Linked DNA regions of Homo sapiens. The protein of the gene in region 1 interacts with the protein of each later gene in a pairwise test. Each region holds a gene or a part of one and is shown on either strand. Other genes may lie near its edges. The genes, in order: C2orf42 and ECT2.

The links.
Region 2: the proteins of C2orf42 (region 1) and ECT2 interact in a two-hybrid assay, tested with the Homo sapiens proteins (one large-scale study listed by BioGRID).

What each region holds. Positions count from the first base shown.
Region 1 is NC_000002.12:70,187,939-70,192,250, forward strand, and holds the start of C2orf42 (uncharacterized protein C2orf42), read right to left. Parts: upstream 3,082-4,312; 5' UTR 3,035-3,081; exon of another isoform or gene 2,246-3,034; intron 1-2,245.
Region 2 is NC_000003.12:172,763,985-172,767,802, reverse strand, and holds part of ECT2 (protein ECT2), read right to left. Parts: intron 3,526-3,818; coding exon 3,303-3,525; intron 1-3,302. UniProt on the Homo sapiens protein: Guanine nucleotide exchange factor (GEF) that catalyzes the exchange of GDP for GTP. Promotes guanine nucleotide exchange on the Rho family members of small GTPases, like RHOA, RHOC, RAC1 and CDC42.

The DNA.
Region 1 (4,312 bases):
CCTCGGCCTCCCAAAGCTCTGGGATTACAGGCATAAGCCACCATACCCGACTGCATTTTGGCTTTTATAGGAAAGCTAAAGACAGTACAGAGACTTCCTACCTACCTTTCACACAGACTCCCCAAATGTTAACATCTCACATAACTATGGGGCATTTGTCAAAAATAAGGTCTTAACATTGGTACAACACTATTAACTCTACTACAGGCTTTATTCAGATTTTACCAGTTGTCCACTAATGCCCCTTTTTATTTTATTTATTTTTTTGAGACGGAGTCTTGCTCTGTCACCCAGGCTGGAGTGCAGTGGCGTGATCTTGGCTCACTGCAACCTCTGCCTCCCGGGTTCAAGCAATTCTCCTGCCTCAGCCTCCTGAGTAGCTGGGATTACAGGCGTCCACCACCAAGCCCGGCTAATTTTTCTGTATTTTTAGTTGAGACGGGGTTTCTCCATGTTGGCCAGGCTGGTCTCGAACTCCTGACCTCAAGTGATCTGCCTGTCTCGGCCTCCCAAAGTACTGGGATTACAGGCGTGAGCCGCTATGCCTGGCCTCAATCTCCCTTTTAAAAAAGAATAAATCTTTTAGACTAATTTTAGATTTTCAGAAAAGTGGCAGATAGAACACAGTTCCCAAACACCACTCACCCAGTTTCCCAATGTTAACATCATATATAAACATGGGACATTTGTCAAAACCAAGGGACCAACATTGCCACATTATTATTAACTGAACTCTAGACTTTGCCCCTTTTTTCTGTTTCTGGATCAAATCCAAGATACCACATTGCATTGAGTCATCACGTCTCCTTAGTCCCCTCAAGTCCGTGAGTTTGTCTTTCTTTTTCCTAATCTTGACAGTTTTGAAGAGTCGAATATTTTACAAAATGTCCCTCAATTTGAGCTTGTTTGATATCTTCCTTGCATATTTGGAATCAGTATATTTTGATTTGATATTCTGACCCAGCAATTACACTACTAAGAATTTATTTTACAGACTGACTCCCACATGTGTGAAATGAGGGAAATTATAAGGCAACTCAATGAAGAATATTTGTAGCAGCAAAATATAAGAAACAACCTGATGTCCCTCAAGAAGATACTGGTGTAATTAATTATGGTATGCCTACAAAATGGAATACTTCCCAGAAAATAAAATATTTTTACAGCTGTTTAAAAAAAAATGGCATGGCCGGGCACGGTGGCTCACACCTGTAATCCCAGCACTTTGGGAGGCGAGGCAGGCGGATCACCTGAGGTCGGGAGTTCCTGACCAGCCTGAACAACATGGAGAAACCCTATCTCTACTAAAAATACAAAATTAGCCGGGCGTGGTGACGTATGCCTGTAATCCCAGCTACTCCGGAGGCTGAGGCAGGAGGATCGCTTGAACCCGGGAGCCAGAGGTTGCGGTGAGCCAAGATCGTGCCATTGCACTCCAGCCTGGGGAACAAGAGAGAAACTCCATCTCAAAAAAAAAAAAAAAAAAAAAAAAAAATGGGCCGGGCGCGGTGGCTCACGCCTGTAATCCCAGCACTTTGGGAGGCCGAGGCGGGCAGATCACAAGGTCAGGAGATCGAGACCATCCTGGCTAACACAGTGAAACCCTGTCTCTACTAAAAATACAAAAAATTAGCTGGGCGAGGTGGCGGGCGCCTGTAGTCCCAGCTACTAGGGAGGCTGAGGCAGGAGAATGGCGTGAACCCTGGGGGGTGGAGCCTGCAGTGAGCCGAGATCGTGCCACTGCACTCCAGCCTGGGCGACAGCGAGACTCCGTCTCAAAAAAAAAAAAAAAAAAATGGCCTGAGTAGCTGGACGTGGTGGCTCACGCCTGTAATCCCAGCACTTTGGGAGGCTGAGGCGGGAGGATCACTGAGCTCAGGAGTTCAAGACCAGCCTGGGCAACATAGTGAGACCCTGTCTCTTAAAAAAAAAAAAAGATACACTGTGGAGTGAAAAAAGTGCAGCACTTTGTAATATGCTATTCTTGGTTTTACTCTTTTAAAAGAAAAAAAAAAAGACGAGAGATACACATATGTATCTATCTAGACACACACACATACAATGTCTATTGCATCAGAAGAAACGACATGGGATTTGGGAAACAGAAGTTAGGAGGGAGACTTACATCTCACTGTTTGGCAGTATTTGAATTTTAAAACATGTACTAGTATTACTTCCTAGAGACTCTATATCGAAAGCATATACAAACAATTAACACAACTTGTAAAGAACGTGGATTTGAAACCTGAAAGATCTGCTGGGTATTCTCTTCTCAGCAAGTTTACAAATCAGCCTCCTCGGCGGGAGAGTGTCAAGGGACTGGTGTTGGAAGCGTTAACCCGCGATGGGTTTCCATCCAACCACTACCCAGACCTAAATGTTTGGTGGATTCTGTTTCATGCTTGTGAGGCACAGTTAGGGGAAAAGAACAAATGATCATTACGGATAAATAATAAAACTAGCTGAGTACACTGCGTGTTAAATCCTTTCTATGCATGTACTGCCCACACGATCCTGTGAGGTAGATACTATGTTACCCATCTTAGAGATGAGGAAACTGTTACTCAGATTTGACGGAAGCGTCACAGCCAGCAGGTAACTCACAAACGTGGGTTTGTAGTCGGCTGGATGGCTTGCCAAACCACAAGTGGGAGGATGGAGCACATCAGCCCTCAACGGCCTCGGAACAGCGGAGGAAGACCGCCGGGGCCCTGCAGTCAACGGAGCGGCCGCCCGACTCCGGGACGCTCACCTCCCGGCCGGCTTCCGGGATGGGTCTGCAGCGACACACACATATCCCCTGGGACCTGCTTCCCGGCATCCTCCCCGCGCGAGCGCTCACTTCCGGTCCCAAGTAGGCCCAGGCAGAAGCATCACCTCGCCGGCAGCCGCTCCTTGGACATGCTTTCCGCTGGGAACCCGAGCTCTACACCCCTGCCCCACCGCCGCCCCGGTCCTTGCTCAGCACTACCCCCTTACCTGCCCTGCGCACCCCCCGCGAGCCCCGGGGCCCTTAGCTGACGACCGCCCTCACCTCTTCTCTCTTCGCCTGCCGCGGCCTTTTACAAACGGGGCCAAACTGTTCGCTGTAACGACAATCGTTATTGGTCAGAGCCGCCCACGCGCGGCAAGTGGCCGCCCACCTGAGCTCGCGTTGTCTTATGGGAGTTTTAGTTCTCTCCTTCAGAGACCGCTGAGACACTGGGGGAATGCGGTGGTAGAACATACGCCGACCTAGCGGCTGTAAAGCTCAGGCTCTGCCTTGGAGTTGGAGTGCTTCTGGCCTATCTTACTGGGCGCTCACCTCCAAGGCTCGTCTTGACTCCCTTCTGGCCTGAGAGAGTCCTATTTCTGAATAGACTTTTGCTGGTAATTGATGCAAAAATGACTTGAGTTGCTGGACGTGGTGGCTCACGCTTGTAATCCCAGCACTTTGGGAGGCTGAGGCGGAGGATCTCTTGAGGCTAGGAGTTCGAGACCAGCCTGAGCGACATAGCGAGACCCTGTCCTTACAAAAAATGAAAATTAAAAAAAAAATCGCCCGAGATTTTCTACATTATTAGCAGATGTCAGCTGCGAATTTGGAGTTTGTTTGGAGGTTCTTGCCCACCTGAGTATTCACCTCTATCACATGTATGTTTATGACAAGTTAACTTTTTCTCCCTTAAGTACACTTTGAACTACACTTGAACGTTTTCTCTTAAAATGAGATAAAAAAGAGCTTCCTGTATATCTTAGTTCTGGTCCTTGGAATCACGGAATAAATCTAAATGCTCATCGTTCATGATTGAAGATAGCTCCCGAGTGCAATGTGTTCATGGTGAGGCCACTGTGTTGGAAAACCCTGGAATGAGGTTTTCTGCTCTCCTGACCCTAGTCTGGCTACTTACTAGTGGTAGCAGGTTAATTTACTATTGGGAAACCTTAGTCAACTATTTATAAGAGAAGTGGAACGTTCCGGCCGGGCGTCGTGGCTCACGGCTGTAATCCCAGCACTTTGGGAGGCCGAGGCGGGCGGATCACAAGGTCAAGAGATCGAGACCATCCTGGCCAACATGGTGAAACCCTGTCTCTCTACTAATACAAAAAAAAAAAGTTAGCTGGGCGTGGTAGCGCGTGCGGGTAGTCCCAGCTACTCGGGGCACTAAGGCAGGAGAATCGCTTGAACCTGGGAGGCTGAGGTTGCAGTGAGCTGAGATCGCGCCACTGCACTCCAGCCTGGCGACAGAGCGACTCCGTCTAAAAAATAAATAAATAAAATAAAAAAAGAGAAATGGAACATTCCAGGACTAATGTTTGTAGTATTAGTTCT
Region 2 (3,818 bases), on another chromosome or scaffold:
CCTAGATCCTGCCACCACACTCCCACGCCACCACACTCCAGCCTGGCGACCAAGCAAGACTCCGTCTCAAAAAAAAAATCTATACACATATCTATAGATATATATACATCTTTTTAATGTATAAAAGCTTAAAATCTGTTTTCTTACTGTTAATATGGTTAGAATACTTTAACATTATATATAGAAGCACCTAATAGCAAGTTTTTCAACAGGAAAAGGAATGTATGACATAAAATAGAAATAGGTGACAAAGAACCATAATATATATTTCCAGCACATCAATTTTACTCAATGATAAACAATTTTAAATGCTTTTATATGAAAACAATTATGTACTATGGAGTTCTGAGTGCTTTTTTTTGGAGATGGAGACTCACTCTGTCCCCCAGGCTGGAGTGCAGTGGTGCCATCTCGGCTCACTGCAACGTCCACTTCCCGGGTTCAAGTGATTCTCCTGCCTCAGTCTCCTGAGTAGCTGGGATTACAGGCGCACACCACCACACCCTGCTGATTTTTGTATTTTTAGTAGAGATGGGGTTTCACCATGTTGGTCAGGCTGGTCTCGAACTCCTGAACTCGTGATCTGCCCTCCTCAACCTCCCAAAGTGCTGGGATTACAGGCGTGGGCCACCGCGCCCAGCCCCTGAGTGCTTTTTAAAAAAAACAGAATCTCAAAAAATTTCCCACTTGTCAAACATTATTTTAGGCTACACTCACCAGACCCAGAAGCCTCTGCCATTACAGAATATACTTCAGTGGGAAAAAATTGAGATGCACTGATCTAATTTAATTATTCTGTGTCTAGACAATGACCTACAAACTGGGGAATCTATTTTACAGAGCACCTAAAATATCAGTATAGTTGTCACATCTGTTTACTTCGGTGGTTCATTTTGTTCTCTTGTCTCCTAAAATGCATATTCAAGTTTCAGTCCTTTATGTTCTCCTCTTACCATCCCATGCTATTGTCCATTATGATTATAAAACTAGTACATTCTCAGATCTAATCATGATCTCCCTCTCAAGCTGGTTCAACTTTTCCAAATGCTTACTGGATAGTTCTGCCTTAATGTAACTTGGATTTCTCTAAAACTTCACTACCTCCCTCCAAAATATAAATTTCCTATCCATGCCAAGGCAACATTTCTTTCATTTAAATTAGTAATTTGCCTTCATCTCTTTTTATTTCCTCCCTATTGCTTTATTCTACCAATATTTCTCCAGTGCTTCTTACTTTTCTTTCCAACCACCACATACTCTGGTTCAGCACCTTATTATTTCATGGCCGAAGCGATTGTAATAGATTACATCATGGTCTGACTGTCTCCAAACTGCCTTCCTTCTAATCATTCTTCAGAACAACTCTCTATGAATTATCTATTCAATCAATTTCTCTGCTGCTCAAGGAGTTTCTAAAATTCCTTGTTGATGACAATATACAGTTCAGATATTACAGTCTTATTTGAAAGTGACCTAATATTAGGCCTCAATTAACATTTTTAACTTTTATTCCTCCACATTCCAAGCAAACTGATCTATCCATTATTCTCTAAAAACTCAGTTTGTATGCTATTATCTGTATATTTGCTCCTCTTTATATTCTCAAATTCATTTCAAATTTCTGGGCCAACCTTGAATTCACTTTCAGTTCTTCCCTTAAGTATTTAGTGAATACCCACTTTATACTAGGGTCTGAGGATAAACACAGAATAAGACAGACAAGGTTCATTTTCTCTTAAAGATTACTTATTTGAAGCAAATCAAATAATAAAGAAGTAAACAAGTACTGTAATTTCTATCGTAAGAACTACTACTAAAAACAACTACCAGGTCACAGGATTGGCAGAAAGGAGTGGAGGGATTTAACTTTACAGACAATCCACGCAGATTTCCTTGAGGCAGAGAAAGTAACAAAGTCCTGAGGTATGGATGTACTAAAAATATTTGAAGAATAACAAAGATGGTATGACTGAAGCTTAGAGAGTACAGGCATTATTAGAGAGCATAATACCACATGAGATTAGGCAGATGAGGGCAAGATTACATAGGGACTTAAAAGCTACAGTAATAGAAAGCCATTAAGTGATTTTAAAGCAGAGGAGTGGCATCATCTAATTTATATATTTTTAAAGATTTTTCTAAGTGTTGCATATAGAAAGGCACAAATTAAAAGGGAGAGACTATTTAGGAGACTACTGCAATCATCTAAGAGAGATCCTTTTTACAGAAAAGACTGATGAAGAGGAGCAAAGGAACAGAGGAATTAAGAGTGGCAGAATCCAAAGGTCTAATTTGGTTATCTTAGGTTTAAGATATCTATTAGACATGGACAAGGAAGTACAAAGTAGGTAGCTTGACAGGGAAGAGGACAAATTTGGGAGTCATCAGCATACAAATGCTTTTCAAAACCATAGATTTTACTACGATAATTTAGGGAGAGTACAATAGAGAAGAAACAATGACTCAGGAGGAACATACAACATTTAGAATTGAAAAAAAGAAGTTAGGCCAAGGAGAATGAGAAATGAGTAAGTAATATCACAGAAGCAAAGAAAAAAAATTGTGTCCATAAAGGAGTAGCTATTCATGTGTTGAATGCATAAAAACTGTCTCCCCAACAAGGACTGCAGATCAGTTGGAATGCGTTGAAAGGACAACGAGAATCAAGGAAATGAGACAATAGATCAAAGTAATTCTTTTAAGTATGCTGATGTGAAAGCAAACAGAAAAATGGGACAATAAGTGAAAAGTGTCATGAGGTCCGGAGGAGATTTTGATTTTTTTTGTTTCTTAAATCTAGAAAACACATTTGTTTACAGACTAAAAATCAAAAAGAAAGGGAAATACTGATAACCAAGGAAGAATTATAGGAGCCTTTCTGTATCAGTTCAGCACAAAGTGAACTCACCCTCCTCTGACTTCATTCTACCTATTTTCTCCATAATTTATGTGACCTCCCCTGTGACTTTGTTTGCTTTTTGAACAGCACTATCACTCTCTAGTTATATGACCCTGGAGAAATTACTTAACTTCTCTGTATCTCAGTTTAGTCATCTGTAAAACAGGAATAATAAAATCTATTATAAACACACAAAACGTATAAAGCATTTAGCATGTAGTAAGCAGTCATTAAATTGCAACATTATTAAGCTTAACTATTCATGTGTCTTTTCTCTACAGCTAGAACAAAGGTAATTAAAGGCAAAGACTTCCATATTCACTATATCAGGGATTTATCTAAATTCTAACAATTATTCCATTCCACTAAACTTTAAAGACAAGTTTTTAAGAATGTGAATTACCTCCATAGTTAATGCTAGACTCTGGTGTGTTGGAGATATCTAGGAGTGACCCTATGGAAAGGGAATGCTCAGCTGATGGGCGCTTACGGGGTGGAAATGGTGACACGTCTGTCTCTCTTGAAAGCTGAGCAAGTGTTTCTTTTAAACGACGTCGTTTGCGATTGCTGTTAGGGGTATTTAGAGAAAGCATTGACACTGATTTCTTGAGCTCAGGAGTATTTGCCTGTAATCAAAAGCACACAAGCTCAATTTACTTCCATGGTTCTTTACTGAGACAGGAACAAGAGAAAAATATATTTACAAGTCTGACAGAATCTGGATTTTGCACAATAATTTTATAACCCTACACTCTACCAGGCAATTCAAAAGTTTCATAAAACATAATAGTCAAGAGACGACTGTAATTGTCTAACCTCAAGCACCTCATTTTTCTTCATAGCCACTATCACTATTATATTTTCATCTGTAAACTTGTTTACTACCTGCTCCTTCATTAGCTCATCAACTCCAAGAAGG